2 separate regions of the Homo sapiens genome follow, and region 1 is linked to region 2. Evidence: fine-mapped expression QTL. Tissue or cell type: sun-exposed skin. Region 2 holds a variant in brackets; the other region holds the start of a gene. All regions are shown on one strand. Distances are from middle to middle.

Region 1 (8,104 bases), 22 kb before region 2:
CCTACAATCCTTTAACTGTGAGATGCCACAAGGAGAGCACCTGGATCTAAGAAGTCAGCTCAACTGTTTGTACCAACCCTGAGAGGTCCCAGACTGCTCATTCTGTGTTCAGTTCTGAGTTTCCCTGCTGCCTCCCTCACTGTCAGGCTATTAGAGCATATTTTTCTTTGTTACCAATGTAACTTGCCCTTCACAGTCTGTTCTTTCTTAGCTGGCCATTGCCTACAAACTACGATAGCCAGGTTTGTTATAATTCTATGTTAAATAAGAGTTAATAGATGAAGTCCTCTGCTAGGGGTCGAGCGTCTGGGTCCTAATAAGGATTCCTCATTAGCTCAGAGATCTTTCTGTCTTCTCCTAAGTTTACAGCTGAGCTCAGCAAGCAAAAGCTGCAACAAGTCTGATCTTTGAATGAGTGAGGATTTATTGGGCTAAATTTGATTCTGAAATGGGTATTTAACAGTTGTCATTTGATAATGATGAGGTCTGGACTCCTTCAAAATCTTTGAGCAAATAAGCTTTGCATAGCAGTGCTAGCCGCATGATCTTTTTGGAGAAATACTAGGACACTGGAAGAAGGTATTCATCATCAGAGAAAAACACAGCTTTGCATCCTGATATTCTCAGGCTCAGAAGATTAGTAAGTCTCAGTTTCTCTTTCTCATTCCCTGACCATTCTGCTCTTTTACCTCCTCCAAATGCAGATTCTGATATATGCTTTTTTTGTTCAATCTTTCTTTTTCTAAATGTACATATTCTCTCTGACATGGTCACTCTGCTTGTCTCTGTCTTTCTTTCTTTTATTTTAGTTGGTATCTCTGCTGCTGTATATTTGGGCCCAATTCCAAATATCTCTGTATCTGTTTTTTGATGCATCTCCAAGACTCTTCTGCTTGACTTTTGCTCTATCTCTGCTGACCCACACTCTAACACTCACTGTCTGTCAGTCTTCTCTGGGTATCATTGTCTAAGTAAAACACAAGTCAGTGTACAGACAGCGTTGGGATCGGCCAGAGGCAGATAAACATGGTAGCCTATCTTCACAGTTTGTACTTTTCCTAGATGTCAGATGGGGAGTGGATTAGCAATGGCCTCAGTCCCTAGACACTGTGCAATACCCTGATAGTCAGTCTTGTATCCCGCCCCGAGGCTCCACTCCCTTGACAATGGATCTGAAAGCTTTCTTGTACTCAGAATCATCAGATGGAAAGGCCCACCCTTGTAGTCCCTGACCACCATGTTATGTAGATGGCTGCTCCCAGTAGTAAGAAATCCATGAATGGGAAGATGGTTCCCAGGAACATTCACCCAGCAACAAAAAAATTAAACACAAATTGGGGCTTGAATTTTTGTGGCAATCAATGACTGAAAAAAAAATAGAAAAAAGAAGGACATGACCTTTTTAAAGACAAATGAAGACTCATTTTCAGTAACTAGAGTCTTAAAAACTATTTTAATCTGAATGCAGATCATTGTTTACCCACAGAGAGTTTTATGACAATGATTTCACTGACATGCAGAATCAAATATTATGATCACCACCAGCAGCCAAAAAACCCTATTCTTTGCCCAAGGAGTAGTAGAAATGTAGACTAGACAGACAAACAGGGTCTCCTATTTTGCCTCATTAGTGCCACACTCTATACAACTACAGTCACGAAGGGGTCACATTTGGTTATAATTACTATTAGAATAATATGGGAGTGTGATGTTTGTGGTGGAAACTTGCCCATGACTTATGTAACCATTTCTGCTGACAAATTTTAGGATCTAAAAACTTTGTGGGTTTTTTTGTTTTGTTTTTGTTTGTTTGTTTTTGGGACAGTCTCGCTCTGTCACCCAGGCTGGAGTGCAGTGGCACCTCCGCCTACAGTGTTCAAACGATTCTCCCACCTCAGCCTCCCAAGTAGCTGGGACCACAGGCACACGTCACCATGCCCTGCTAATTTTTTTGTATTTTTAGCAGAGATGGGGTTTCACCATGTTGGCCAGGCTGGTCTCAAACTCCTGACCTCAAGTGGTCCACCTGCCTCAGCCTCCCAAAATGCTAGGATTACAGGCGTGAGCCACCGTGCCTGGCCCAGGATCTAAAAACTTTCTAAGTTTCCTCCATCGTTGGCATCCTCACAGCTATCTCCAATGTCACTCAAGAGACATCAACAGACATTTAACTGCTGCAGACTTCATTGCTCTGTCACCTCACCTTGAATCTAACAAATCAAAGTATTTCTGCAGGTCCAATGGTCTAAAATCAAATGCTTGTTAAATGACTTTTTACAACACCCCTTACTTTCCTAATCCATTTCAATCTTATTTTTTTTATTGTGGTAAAAAACACATCAGGTAAAATGTACCATCTTAACCATTTTTAAGCATATGGTACAGCAGTGTTAACTCCATGCATGTTGTGAAACAGACCCCCGGAACTTTCTCATCTTGTAATTCTGAAGTTCTATACCCACCGAACAACTCCTCTTTTCCCCTTCCCCCTGCCTGCCCCAGCTCTTGGCACCATTATTCTGCTTTCTGTTTTTGAGAGTCTGACTACTTAAGATACCTCATACAAGCGGGATCTGGCTTACATTTCTTGAGCATTGTATTCTGGAAAAGTGTTTCCTTCCTCTGAAAAATGGGTAGAGTTCTGAAGGAGAACTACTGGTCTTATTGTACACTTGCTGTACCTATTTTTATTTAACAAATATTCATCTATGGTATAATAAAGATGTCATGATTGAGTTGCTCACTGGAATCTTTGTTATCTCAGAGTATCTCACCGAGGAATTTGGAATGGTTCATGGGTTTAACAGTGGATGTTGACTTCCACAGCTGCTTATAATTATTCGCTGTCTTTAATGTTTGCGACCAAAACATCACACACGTGGTATTGTTCATTCTGAGTTTCAAAATCATAACCAAAAAAAAATGAGGCCAGAATGTAGTAAATACAGTAGCCAGTCTTTAACATGCATTTAAAGAGTTGAGTCATCCTAGCCCATCCTACGATGGCAAGATAATTTCAAAGGGGACCTCAGCTGTCCACAGTTGCACCTGCCTTAAAAGTCAAGAAGAATTTGTTTTTTGGGTCACTTCCCTGGTCACTTTAGCCTGGGGATCATTTCCAAGTAGTATAGTTGCAGATCTTCGAACGCCATTCCTGTGTTCTGTGAATTCAAGACAACATGGGTTTTATAACCCTTTGACTCTGCTCAGCATCTCCCAGATCAAGGTAAGGTAATGTTGCCAAGAACCACTACTTACAGAATGTTTGGGCTTTTGCTTTTGCTTTTCTTCCTTGCCCCAAATCCACATGTCCGTTCTGAGAAAAGAAGCTAACAACTTCTTCCAATCTGTAAACAGGAGAAATTCCAGAGTTCAACTGCAGCTAAGACCTTGTCCCTGAACTTGTCAACTTCTTCCCTGCCCTCCCACCTCCTCCTTTCGTACCAGCCAAAGAAGGTCTTCGGTTTCCTTTTTGGAGAGCCCCAGAGAGAAGCATTTGAGCACCTACTTTAGCCAGAGAGACCACTGACATCTGGGCATGAGACTGGCATCTAGACTTTGCCAGGGAGGCAGCTATACTTCCCAAAAGATCTGGGGTCTTTCTCACGAGCTCATACCCTCTGCTGGCCTAGACCCTTTATATTCCCCCCTCGGTGCTGAGGCAAACGATCTTTGCCAGCAGGGAGGTCTGAAAGGCTTAACTTTGTACACTCTGAGGCAAATTCTCCAGAAGTAATGTTGCATTTTCTCCCTGCCACCAGGCACATTCCCTTCCCAAGGTCTAGATCAGCAGGTGGCCCTCCCAGCGAAAGCTCTGTGTCCTATGATCCGAAACAATAAAGCTGTGCTTGGGTACGTGAGATTATGTTTACGATGATGGTCATCACTCCAGCCCTAGGAAGTTTGAGAAACTGAAAAATAAGCTTAGCAGGCTGCCTAGGTTCTGCGGAATCAGCAGGCCCCCGCTGTGACCAATCAAGAGCGGCCGCGGGGAGAGAAATTGACTCATTCTTTTCAATTTGCTGATTGGCTTTGAGAAGTGGGCGGAGCTACTGTCTCTGTCCCGGCTTCCCATTGGTGGATGAAAGTTAAAGGTGGGCCTCCAGCAAGTTTTGTCCTTTGATAAAAAGGAATGTCTTGGGGACTTTTCTTTTCTGCTTTGCAGGCCCAGGCTCAAGGCAAATTATAAGTAGGGAACCAATTTGAGGGAAAGACATGTGAACAGAGTTAAGGTACCACGTCCTGGGAGCGACCAGCAGCCCCACCTGAAGTCCGCATGCAACTCTGACAAGCTCAGGTGCTTGTTTTAAGGAAAGGGGCTACTAGAGTCTTACCAACAGCGAGCCCAGGTGGGAGATGAAACAGGTACTCCCCAAAATAGGTCATCCGAGGGAGGAAAACTGATGGAGAGCACAATGTGCTCTGAGCGTTTTTAATGTTTTTAAGCTTTTAAATGATTTCTTCAAGGCCGAGCAGCAGCAGCAAAGGTGTGGCTTAAAGGATTAAGGGGGTTTCTGCTGACACCTAGAATGAAGTTACTCTATTACTAATCAAGCCGAGAGGAGGCCCACTATGCCCCCGTTTATCATCCTTTCCCAGTTCCTTTTTGCTGGTCACAAAACGATGCTCATCAATCCCACCTAAAGCAGGAGGCCAGGAGCCCAGCCTCTTGTAGAAACAGCGAGGGTATAACTGCCCTCCCGTTCTGCCCCCAAGACGAAGGAGGACTCTCGGAAGCCAAGAAAGGTTTAAGAAGTCTTTCTGGATAGAGAGCAGTGCCCAGGCAGGAAGCCTTTCGCCGGCAGAGCGGGGTCCAAGGACGAGCTGGAGAGGACAGAGGCGCGATGGGCCTGCTGCAGGGCCTGCTCCGAGTCCGGAAGCTGCTGCTGGTCGTCTGCGTCCCGCTCCTGCTGCTGCCTCTGCCCGTCCTCCACCCCAGCAGCGTGAGTACCGACCTGCGCCCACCGGGGGTCTGGGAGTCAGTGGGAGGGCAAAGAGGGGAGGTCGGTAGGGGAACATGGGGCGCTCAGGCAGTCCCTCAAAGTGGCTTGTGGTGGGTTTAAAGAAATGGAAGGATTTTTCCAGAGGAAACCAAGATATCTTCTTCCTAAAAGCTGTCATGTTCATCTCCTATCCCAGTCCCATTCCCCCAACCCCATGGCCCCCACCGGGGTCAGGACAGAGTAGGGGCCTTGGCAGAAGTGACTGATGGGTGTTGCACCAAGCAGCAGGCCAGCCTGCCCCAGCAGCGGGGGCCAGCGACACCCATGCAAACGACATGGTGCACCTGTGTTTGTCGGGAGTTCACCTGGGACCCTGGTTATCTGAGAGCCCCTGGAGACACAGAAAGAGCTCCCAATAGTGGCACTGAGGAGAAGGTTGGGGGAGGAAGAGAACCGTGGAGCCAATCCGTGGTCTGTGGTCGTGTCCTGGTGGGCTTCGATGACCACAGTTGAAGCTCTAATCCCGAAGGCGCCTATCAACTTCAGGGAATGAATGTTTAGGGAAGGAATGAAAGCAGAACTTAGCAGGCTGCCCTGCTCCCATGCACGTGGCCTTGAATTATTTGTGTCTTCTGTGTTTTCTTCTCTGTCCTCTTGAAGGACAGACAAAAAGTGACACGATAAAAAAGAGATAAGAGCCCCCAAACTCTAGCCCGTGACCTCATTCTTCACCTGGTTTGTGAGAACAGAGGAACCTCAGCTCTGGCTCAGCATCCAGCTTGCCTGTCACACCCTCCTGGTGGTCACCTGCTTCCCTTCCCTTCCCTCCGCTGTTCTCTTCCTCCTGTCTGTGGCTTGTCCCCTTCCCCCAGCTGGCACTGCCCTGGAGACTTTAGGAAAAATAAGCTAAAACAGGTTAATCACGTTTGTAGGAGGGGGAGCAATTCTTCCACTCTGCTCCTTAAGTAACTTGGTAACCAAGATTAAGTTAAACAGTTAAACAGAGGGGATTAGGATGGTTCTTCTTAAAAACAAACTGGCTTAAATCTTTCATAGAATAAATACTCCAGAGTGCCAGGGAGACGCTGATTAAAACTGGGCTGGGATTAGCAGACAGTGATTGCTGCTGACATTCTTCCTGGACTGTACCCTAGTCAATTTTCTGCTTTGTCCAAATGGGCCTGATTTTTTTTCTTTTTGTGGCTTTTCTTGTTTTTGTTTTTTCTCCATGTAGGTTGCTATAAGGGACTGTTACCGAGAGACATACTAGCCTCCTCTCCCAAGCAGTATCAGGAACCTCTCATATCTCCTGGTTGAGGCAGCCCCATCTTTGGGGACCTTGGCCACTGCCCACAGAAGGCACAGACTAGGTGCCCAGCAGGTAGAGTTTCATCCATCCGTCACCCCTTTCATCAAACTTTTTTTTGTAGACGCAGAGTCTCACTCTGTCACCCAGTCCGGAGTGCGGTGGCACAATCGTAGCTCACTGCAGCCTTGAGCTCCTGGGGTTAAGCAATCCTCGTGCCTCAGCCTCTGGAGTAGCTGGGACTACAGGCAAGCAAGTACCACCACATGCAGCTAATTTTTAAAAAAATTTTTTTTGTAGAAATGGGGGTTTCACTATGTTGCCCAGGCTGGTCTCAAACTCATGGTCTGACGTGATCCTCCCAAAGTGTTGAGATTACAGGTGTGAGCCACCGTGCCTGGCCTGCATCAAACTTTTAGAGTCTGATATTTAACCCTTAAAATTCCAAATGGATTTTCTTGCTCTGGACTGGAGTTGAGAGCAGTGATGGAGTACCTGGGCAGGAGCTCCTGGCCTGCAGTTTTGATGGTTCTAAGCGACAAGCCTCAGCTACATTTTAGGAGGAGTCAAAATGACCTTCCCCCTTTTTCTTGCCCAACTCTCTAAAACTAGAGGTCCAGACACTGTTTATCATGTTATAGAAGAAGAGGGTACAAGAGACAGCATCCATAACTAAGCCCTTCCTCAGTGCCCCCAGTGGGATAAAAGTTGCATCTCAACTGCCCAAGCTAAATTTTTTAAAAGGCGCCCCCAGTCATTGATGATAACAGATAACAGACTTCAACCTCCTTCCCGTGAAGTTGGAGTGGGATATCACTGGGGTGGTCAAACTGCGTGGAAAACGAGCAGTTCCACGCCTAAGTGAGTAGCTGACTAGGAAACGTCCTACATGGGGAAATGCCACTTTCGAACTCTTTCCTTTACTTGTAAACGGGAGCCAAAAAATAGTAGATAGCATGTCCCTTGAAGATATTGTCTGAACACTCACCAATGCCCAACCCCCACATACCTGCTATTATAAGGAACCAGTGGTGTTGTTAAAGAGCCTGGGGGTTGCAGAATATTCTCTCCAGAAGATGAGCGAGACCTGACAGCCAGCAGAGAAGTCCAGTGCAGTTCAGCCCACGTGAATTGAACCACCTGCTAGACATGGGATAGGCGTTGGGGACATCGGACTCCTTGTAAGCAAACTTTGCAGTATTTTTGGTTGTCTGAATACAAGCTTACCTCCTGAATTTTGGGAAGCTTTAGAAGGGGAAAAATGAAGTTTATGGAGATTCCATGGGTGAAATAAGTGGAAACTGTATGGAAAGACTCTCTAAAGGTGTCTCTTGTCCATTCTTCTACTCTAAGGAAAATCCAGGTAAAAAATGATAGTAATTAATCCTGTCCTTAATACAGCTGGGTGAAGGTGGCCTGATGACTTACTTCTTCCAGTAACCTAGTCGCATGTCTAACAATATTTACAACCAAAATGTTTGCTTTATTTTACCCACATTCTCCTAATTGAAAACTAAAGGCACCTGGCAGAGGGAAAGTCCTCTTTCTTTCTCTCTCTCTCCTTTCTTCTTTTTTTTTTTTTTTTTTTTTTCTGAGACAGAGTCTCACTCTGTCACTCAGGCTCTGGAGTGCAGTGGCACAACCTTGGCTCACTGCAACCTCTGCCTCCCGGGTTCAAGGGATTCTCCTGCCTCAGCCTCCAGAGCAGCTAGGATTACAGGCATGTGCCACCACACCTGGATGAATTTTTTGTATTTTTAATAGAGACAGGGTTTCGCCATGTTGGCCAGGCTGGTCTCGAACTCCTGACCTCAACTGATCCACCCACCTCGGCCTCCCATAGTGCTGGGATTAC
Region 2 (8,104 bases):
CCCCCCAGGAAATGGTCACAGTGAGGGCAGATGTCCCTTCTCCTACACAACCCTCATCAACCAGATGCAATGAAATGTCCATAGGGCAAAAGAGAGAAAGGAGAGATGGAGCAGCCTGCCTTTATTTTGGTTTTGATGTTATCAAAGTGTTTCGTGCACAAAGTTTAAAAATCAAATACTTTAATACTGAACGCTTATAATGAAAAGTCAGCAGTCTCTTTCCTCATCCCTCCCACTTCCCCCCCTACCAAGTCCCACCCCACCCTCAGAGTCAATAACTTGTAACTTTGTTAACAGCTTCTTCTGTCATTAAGCTCCATTCCCATATGATATTCTTATATTAGTCCTTGAGTTCTCACTTTAAGCGGCTATCAGTTGACTTCTTGTTATAGCAGATGAAGATTTTTTCTTTTTGTTTTTTGTTTTCTTTTTTGAGACGTAGTCTCGCTCTGTCGCCCAGGCTGGAGTGCAGTGGCGCGATCTCGGCTTACTGCAAGCTCTGCCTCCCGGGAAGATTTTTTCTTTTACATCCCCCACTTCGCCTTCTACCATCCTCCCAATATGCTCAATCACAATTTTTGTTAATTCAATAATCAAAATTAGTATGATCATGTACATATTATTTCAAATGCTATGTATTTTACTATGTATTTCCTTTCCTGTTGAATTTTTATTTTTGCTGCAGTTAAAAATGTTCTTGTTTTCTCACTTTAAGAGGGTTTTTCAATTAGAAGTTAGACTTTTCTATAGCTTTTCCTCTCAATTTCTGTATGGTTCCTCCAGTTGGAAGCAATTCTCATGTATGTGACAAATATTTATTGAGCATCTACTTTTGCATATTATTCTACTAGGTGTTAAGATATATAGAAGGGAACCATTCACAGCCGAAAAATTTAGTTGAGAGACAAGAGAAGTACACATACAAAAATAAACAAACAACAGTACAATCAGGAAGCAATCATTCAAGCATTGCTCCAAGTGCTCTGTGGTGTGCGGAATTAATGGTGCCCAGGAGGAATATTCTGGAATCAGAGGCTAGGGCCACAAGAAAGGTTTTTTCTAGAGGATGCCAGGCCTGAACTGGGCTTCAAAGTCTGATTGGAATGTACAGGCAGAGATGGAAAGAGAGAATGTTCCAAGTGAGAGAATCAACAAAGATTTGGTCCATGAACCTCAAACATGCGAAACATCTTTTTAACTGCCCTATGTCTCAACTTCCCCATCATTAAATTAAAAAGTAGAAAGGAGTTTATAACTGGTACTGTGGCCACTAAGGAAGAGAAAATCCCTACTCGTAGAAAATATACCCTGAGCCTGGGAGGTTGAGGCTGCAGTGAGCTGTGATCATGCCACTGCACTCCAGCCTGGGTGACAGAGTGAGACCCTGTCTCAAATTTTTTTTTAAAAAAAAAAGAAAGAAAGGAAAATATACACTGAAGTATTTAGGGGTAAAGGACCAGCCAAAATGTGTGTAACTTACCCTCAAATGGTTCAGGGAAAAAAAAAAAGAGTGTATAGGTATTCCTTGTACTATTTTCATTTTTGGAATTCATTGGAACTTGAGAATTATTGGGAATTATTTAAATTTTTAAAATTAAGGCCGGGTGCGCTGGCTCATGCTTCTGATCCCCGCAATTTGGGAGGCCGAGGTAGGAGGATCACGAGGTCAGGAGATTGAGACCATCCTGGCTAACACAGTGAAACCCCATCTCTACTAAAAATACAAAAAAAATTAGCCAGGCATGGTGGCAGGCACCTGTGGTCCCAGCTACTCGGGAGGCTGAGGCAGGAGAATGGCGTGAACCCAGGAAGCGGAGTTTGCAGTGAGCCGAGATCGCACCACTGCACTCCAGCCTGGGCGACAGAGCGAGACTCCATCTCACAAAAAAAAAAAAAAAAAAAAAAAAAAAATTGAGCAAGACTCTGTCTCAAAGAAAAACAATAATGAGGATATGATGTTAAATGAAAAAAAGGCAAGATATAAAAGTATACATACTGTATAAATGCATTTATCTATATAGGTATAGGAAAAATGGAAGAAACTATAAGTATTTACAGTAGCATGATTAAGGGTAATTTTGTCTTTAACTTTTTTTATATTTTGAAGTTTTCCATACTGAGTATGTATTAATTTTCTAATAGAAATGAAATGAAAATAATTTTCTAATATTTTCTAAAAACATTAAAAATTAGGTTTGGGGAGAAACCTAGGGTTATTTTAAAAGATCAATATAAAATTATATGTGTTTATTCTTTAAAATCATATTCACATCATATTTAAATACAGTGGTTTTATGTTTTCCAAAGTGGAGAAGAACATCTATCCTATAGAGTTATGGGCCAGATTGAATGAAATAATCTGTCAAGTACTTAGCACAGTGCCTGCCCACAATGAACGCTCAGTAGATGTGACTCTAGGATGGGCGGCTATTTCAATAATCCTCACCCCCCTGCCTCCCCTTCGCCAGCCTCTTTGATTGAGAACAGGTTTTATTGGGTATGGCCCATTCTCCCAGCTGGTGCTGGGCCCTGGGTCTTTGGTCCGGGAGGGTGACTGACATGCCTGGCCTCCCTACAGGTGGCGGCGGAGTACTTCAAGAACACCACGCTGCTGCTGGTGGGGGTCATCTGCGTGGCGGCTGCCGTGGAGAAGTGGAACCTGCATAAGCGCATTGCTCTGCGCATGGTCTTGATGGCCGGAGCCAAGCCGGGCATGTAAGTCTTATTTGGGATGCCAGGACATAGGGCATCCTTCTAGCTCCCAGTGTGCCACCAGGACAGTGGTCTCAGGTCACTGCGGGATGTCCACTTCAGCTGTTTTTTTACCAAAGGGTCGGGCTGACACCAGAGCCATAGGACCCGTCCAGGGAGAGGGCCTGTGATCATGGAGTAGAGATTTAAACCTGTGACCTTGCTATCATTATCCAAAGAATTTACCCATTGACCTAGGCTGCAAGGGCAGCAGCTTACAACATATAGGGGCCCATCAGGTAAAACAGGATGGACCAAGAGAAATTGTTTCCCAACCTGTTTCCTGTGTATCAGGGAACAGGCTGGACCGGAAGTGGCTGTCTTCTCCTTTGTCACTGAAGGAGACGGGAATGTTTCCTCCCATCCACCCTGAGTTTTTGTCATCAGTTCAGACCACAGACCCAGTTAGAGACACTGCATTTGACTGTGATGCGGGAGGGAGTCCCACCCTCGGGGAATGTGTTACGGTGTCAAGGTTGAGTTTTGTGTTAGCTTCAGCAATGTTCCATTTGGATTCCCCTGCCTGTACCTTCCCTTTTGGAATATCCTGCTCACCTCCTTCTAGTTTACAACTTTCTTGCTGTATTTTATGTAAGCTGCCCTGACTCCTATGGGAGTCAACACGAGTATAAATAAATAATATAGTATTGGTTCTCAGTATGAGTCATTTAGATGACTATAGGTTATGCTTAAAAGCATGTTCCTGTCTCCCAGATTGTCAAACAGGTCTGATAACTACAGCTTAATCCACCCCCTAACTCAGTAATAATCTTGCCCCTACACTCAACCTCCCAGGCACACAGTGGCATTTCGTCACATCATATGGAGACTCTGTGGCTCTTTAAAATCTCTGTGTACTATCTGCAAGAATTTTTATCCTCTCACATTTCCACTCCTCCCTATTTACATCAGTCAGCAAGTTGCCACCCCCAGAGGCAGTTACCCGTGTAGGTACAGAATTGGCAAAGTCAAGTCGCTGTCAGCCAATGGAGTCCACATGATAAACGTACTGTCCCCAAGTTGTGCAAAGTCAGTGATTCCACCTAAAATAATAAACACAGTAGTCTTTATGTTGGCTTATCTTATGGAAACTAGGACATGTCTGTACAGGCACACATTGCACAACGTTCTCAAAGCCAAAGAGAAATAATTAGAGGGTTAACCTTGTTAGTGTTTTTCTCCAAGTGTTGACGCTTTAAGATGTCAGCTGGAAAAGTGCACACAGTGACACGGGACACTTCTGTGACTTTGGGGGCTA[T/C]GCCTTCAGCATGTTGACAGGTAGTGGGTGGAACTGTGAGCTCCAAACATTCATCTCTATTGGGTCACTGATATCTATGGTGACTTGGCGGCAAAGCAAGGAGTGCCGTGGCGCTCACAGAATTGCTGGCTGCGAGGGCAAACAAAGTATTGCCTTCCACACACAAACACACATCACCGCCAAGCTCCAGCCAATGTCCGTGGAGACAGAAAAACAATGGTAAGTCTACACCCTGTGGCCCTACTACCAGAGCTATTCTTTGCTTCACTAAGGACTTTTTTCTGGCTAAGGCCGCTAGTCCATGAAGTGTGATTCATTCATTCAAGAAGTATTGCTTTAATACTTACGCTGTGCCAAGCATTGGGAGTACAGAGCTGAATGGCACCCTGCAGGACAAATGCCTGCCTTTCCAGCCACAGCTGTCTAGACCAGCCCCAGCAGGTTGGTAGGAGGCCCACTGTGGAGCCGCAGGGATGTGTGTTCCGTGGACGCTCTGCCCCAACCCTCCCTGCCTTCCAGGCTGCTGCTCTGCTTCATGTGCTGTACCACGTTGCTGTCCATGTGGCTGTCCAACACCTCCACCACCGCCATGGTGATGCCCATCGTGGAGGCCGTGCTGCAGGAGCTGGTCAGTGCTGAGGACGAGCAGCTCGTGGCGGGCAACTCCAACACCGAAGAGGCCGAACCCATCAGTACAGTTTGCTGGAGTTCATCTCTCCTTTGCTCCTCCAACCTCCCCTGGGGTCCTCCTGCCTGGCTCCTCTAGGGAGACTGCCCAACTTTGTGCCCACCCCAGGACCCCCTCAGCCATGCCCCCACATTCCCCTTCCTCTTCCCTCTCTCCTCTTTCCCATCCCAGCTCTTGGACTCTGAAGCTTCCCTGAACTCCCTGTTCTGGCTCTTCCTTCCTCCTTCACTTCTGGGCTCTTTTCCCCCAAATGCTCAAGGGTACACACTGCTCTTTGCCCCCAAATGCTCAAGGATCACTGCAAAACCCTGGGGCCAGTCTGCATCCATGAGCCCCATTCTATTTACAGAGCAAAGGGAAGGAGAAATGTCACCCACTCCATATGGCCCACCTCCGCCCTAAGCCCTTGAGCTATGCTCCAACCCACAGGGTCAGCCCCAGCCTCCACCTCTCACATACTGCTTTTCTTTGCTACTCATAGGTCTGGATGTAAAGAACAGCCAACCTTCTCTGGAACTCATCTTTGTCAATGAAGAGTGAGTATGACTGCCCTCTCCCAGACAGCGCCTCTCAGAGTCCATAGGGGAGGTCAGAAAAGAGGGGACCTAGACCCATAAACAGCTCTTTGAGATGTACCACCCAAGCTCACCACCTTGCCACACCACCCCCCCACCCCGCCCAACCTCCCCCATTTCCTCTCCATACCTAGGAGTGACCTGTCAGGACCTGGAGAGTCACTCCCTTAACCACAGTGTTGCAGTGATGAGGAAGAAATAAAAAGGCCACACTGAATCTCAGTGGATATATGAACTGTCCACACAGCCACCATGCAGAATCTCTTCTAAATTCATGTCCCTTTTAGGAAAATAGTATGTTTAATTTGTTAACGGAAAACCGTTCACATCTCGATGCCACTGCAGATTCTTGGAGAATCATGAAATATTTTCTAGATATTAGATAAGGTCTTGGTAGATTTGGTCTTGTTAGATATGGCAAAGAAAACTTAGGTGACAGGTAGGGGATGAGGGGACAGGAGGTGAGAGGGCCTTGTGATGATGGGAAGCAGAGCTGGAAAAGGAGAAGCAGCCTCAGACATTCCTGGAGGAAGCTCTATTAACAGCTGATTCCATTTGGAGATTCTATTTCAAAATGTGGCCCACAGGCATGCCACAATGAATAGTCCACATTTAAAAGCTGGATTTGTAATACAGCTCAGCTCTGTCATTTGCCCTTGTTGTAAAAAAGGAGAACGCACATTGGGTGAAATCAGCGTTCACAGTGGGACAGACGTGGAAGGGTGCCATCAGGAAATCGCTTTATTTTTCTCCACCACTATCTTCAATCATAGCATATTGGATTTCTTGATGACATCACCCTTGATGATATCCCAGGCAAATCCCGTAGCTCTCCTGGTTCCTTTCAGGTATTATAACAATCTCATGTTCAGACATTTGGGAGACTAGTCCAAATTCAAATCAAAACTTCAACTTCTCAGCCAAAGCTTCTCCCATACCCACCCACCCCTCACCCTAGGCCTGCAGAAGAAAGAAGGTGAAAGTAAGTCGGGGGAGGGAGTTGAGCTTCTTTCTGTCTTCCTCCACCTCCCTCTTCTCCTCCTCCCCTAACCGCACCCTCACTCTGCTGCTTCTGACTTTTCTGGGCTTAGGACAGCAGCTCTAGGGTACAGGAAAGATAAATGGGTGAGAAGGGTCTGGATGGGGGCTATTGAGGTCTGGGGTTGGTGCCCTCTCTGAGATTTCAGTCCCTGGCTCTTTCATCTGTGGGGCAACTGCCTTCAGGGTCTTTGGAGCATCCCATTATGGCGCCCTCTGCAGGGCCTCAGGCCTGATGGCAGGGCCTTGCTCTGGGATTAACACTCACGCCACCCTCCAGGGCCTGTGCTCTGGTGGTTAACTCCCCCACAACCCCTGTATTGGGGCTGCCTCTGCCTCTGGGCAGGCCTGTCCCAGGTGACCCAGGAAAAGGCCATCCTCACTGTGGCCTTTTCTCCTCCCTGTGGCCTCTCTGGCATCACCCTACTGGCTTCTTGCCTTTGCTCTTTTCCACACAAAAATGTATCCCCAAACTCCAAAAGAAAAGCCTGAGTTGTCCCTAGAACTCTAAGCATCTTTTGTGCTGGTGGGAACTGGGTCATTTGCTGGGTGTGCAGACAGCACTCTTGCGGCCACCACCTCCCATGCTACCTGAGGATCCTCGCCTACCCTCCTCACCCAGTTTGGGAAGAAGGGAAGGGAAACATCACAGCACATTCTCCTCCCAGGCTAAGAACTCACTCCAAAGAACACTTCCCTCTGCACGCCTGTCAGCTTCTTATCCTTCCCTGACAGAGCCTGAAGAGGGACCATGGCCGCAGGACCCACATCCCGCATGTGTGTGCCCAATACGCTCTCTGTCTTCACAGTGGCTGAGCTGGTGGCTCCCACTGTCCTCGCAACTAAGACAAACTGGAAACATTCACTGATCACTCAGTGTGTCAGTTACACTGATGGCTAAGTTCTCATCTTCTTCTGTCCTCAAGGCAAAGGTTGGGGACCAGCAGGGGTGGGAGAGACTCACCCCCTGAGGTGTACTTGCTGATCAGAAGTCCTCCCCCTCCGCCACCCTCTCCCTCTCCCTTGACTTTCCCTGAGTACAATCCAGGCCCTCCCTGCTCCTGTCACCTCCGATACGCATATCACAAGTTCCCCTTTCTAGATAGTGGTCTTCCCAGAGTCAGTCAGTGAGAACATGAGAGTCAGCCAGTGAGAACATGAGAGTCAGCCAGTGAGAACATGGTCAGGGGGCATAGGCTTTCCAGAGAGACAGACTCCTGGACTCCTACCCTCCTCTGCCACTTAGCATCCCCGTGCTAAGTACTGGTGTAAATGGAGGTATGAATGCCAGGACCATAGATCTGTGATGAGGATTAACAATGTCTGGGGGTTAAAGCCCATATATGTGCACTCTGTATCTAATATCCACTCCACATCTGCTGTTAGGACGATTGTTAATATCAAAGGAAAGTGCTGCCCCTGCCCTCAGAAGGAAGCAGGCCCCTGGCCCCACTAATCCTTACAGCATCTCAGAAGGCAAGGAAGACAAGGGAGAGATTAGTCTTCTCTGGAGACTAGAAAACTGGAATCCAGAGAGTTTAAGTCCCTTACACCAAACGCCTGATGCAGGGGGACCTCCCCTCCCAAGAGTCGGCCTCACTGACGTGGCTCCTGTGTCCTCTGCTTGGTTCCAGCAGGTCCAACGCAGACCTCACCACTCTGATGCACAACGAGGTATGGCCTTGGGGTTTTTCTGTGCTTTGGAATCACTTGAAAATCCCTCAGCACTTCTTCATGGAAACCCAAGATTCAGAACCAGATTTTCAACAGCTACAGATCCACCTTAGAGTTCCT

What was found. PIP is the estimated chance that this variant, and not a neighbour inherited with it, causes the effect.
Region 1: it holds the start of SLC13A4, and the variant in region 2 is fine-mapped to the expression of SLC13A4 in sun-exposed skin (GTEx, PIP above 0.99). The same link has a PIP of 0.9 or more in unexposed skin.

Annotation. Positions count from the first base shown.
Region 1 is chr7:135,724,237-135,732,340 of GRCh38, reverse strand. It overlaps SLC13A4 (solute carrier family 13 member 4), which reads left to right and starts at 4,155. Exons shown (of 16, transcript NM_001318192.2): 1 at 4,155-4,943. The coding sequence starts at 4,845. FAM180A (family with sequence similarity 180 member A) reads left to right here. Exons shown (of 4, transcript NM_205855.4): 4 at 2,060-2,749.
Region 2 is chr7:135,702,725-135,710,828 of GRCh38, reverse strand. It overlaps SLC13A4 (solute carrier family 13 member 4), which reads left to right. Exons shown (of 16, transcript NM_001318192.2): 3 at 2,579-2,715; 4 at 4,529-4,701; 5 at 5,179-5,233; 6 at 7,945-7,984. LOC105375521 (a long non-coding RNA gene) reads right to left here. Exons shown (of 5, transcript XR_928021.3): 4 at 4,357-8,104; 5 at 2,233-3,794. Among named protein-coding and RNA genes, the nearest start is that of SLC13A4, 21 kb to the left of the region's middle. RefSeq lists an enhancer at 6,434-6,728. The variant T/C (reference allele first, on the strand shown) is at 4,010.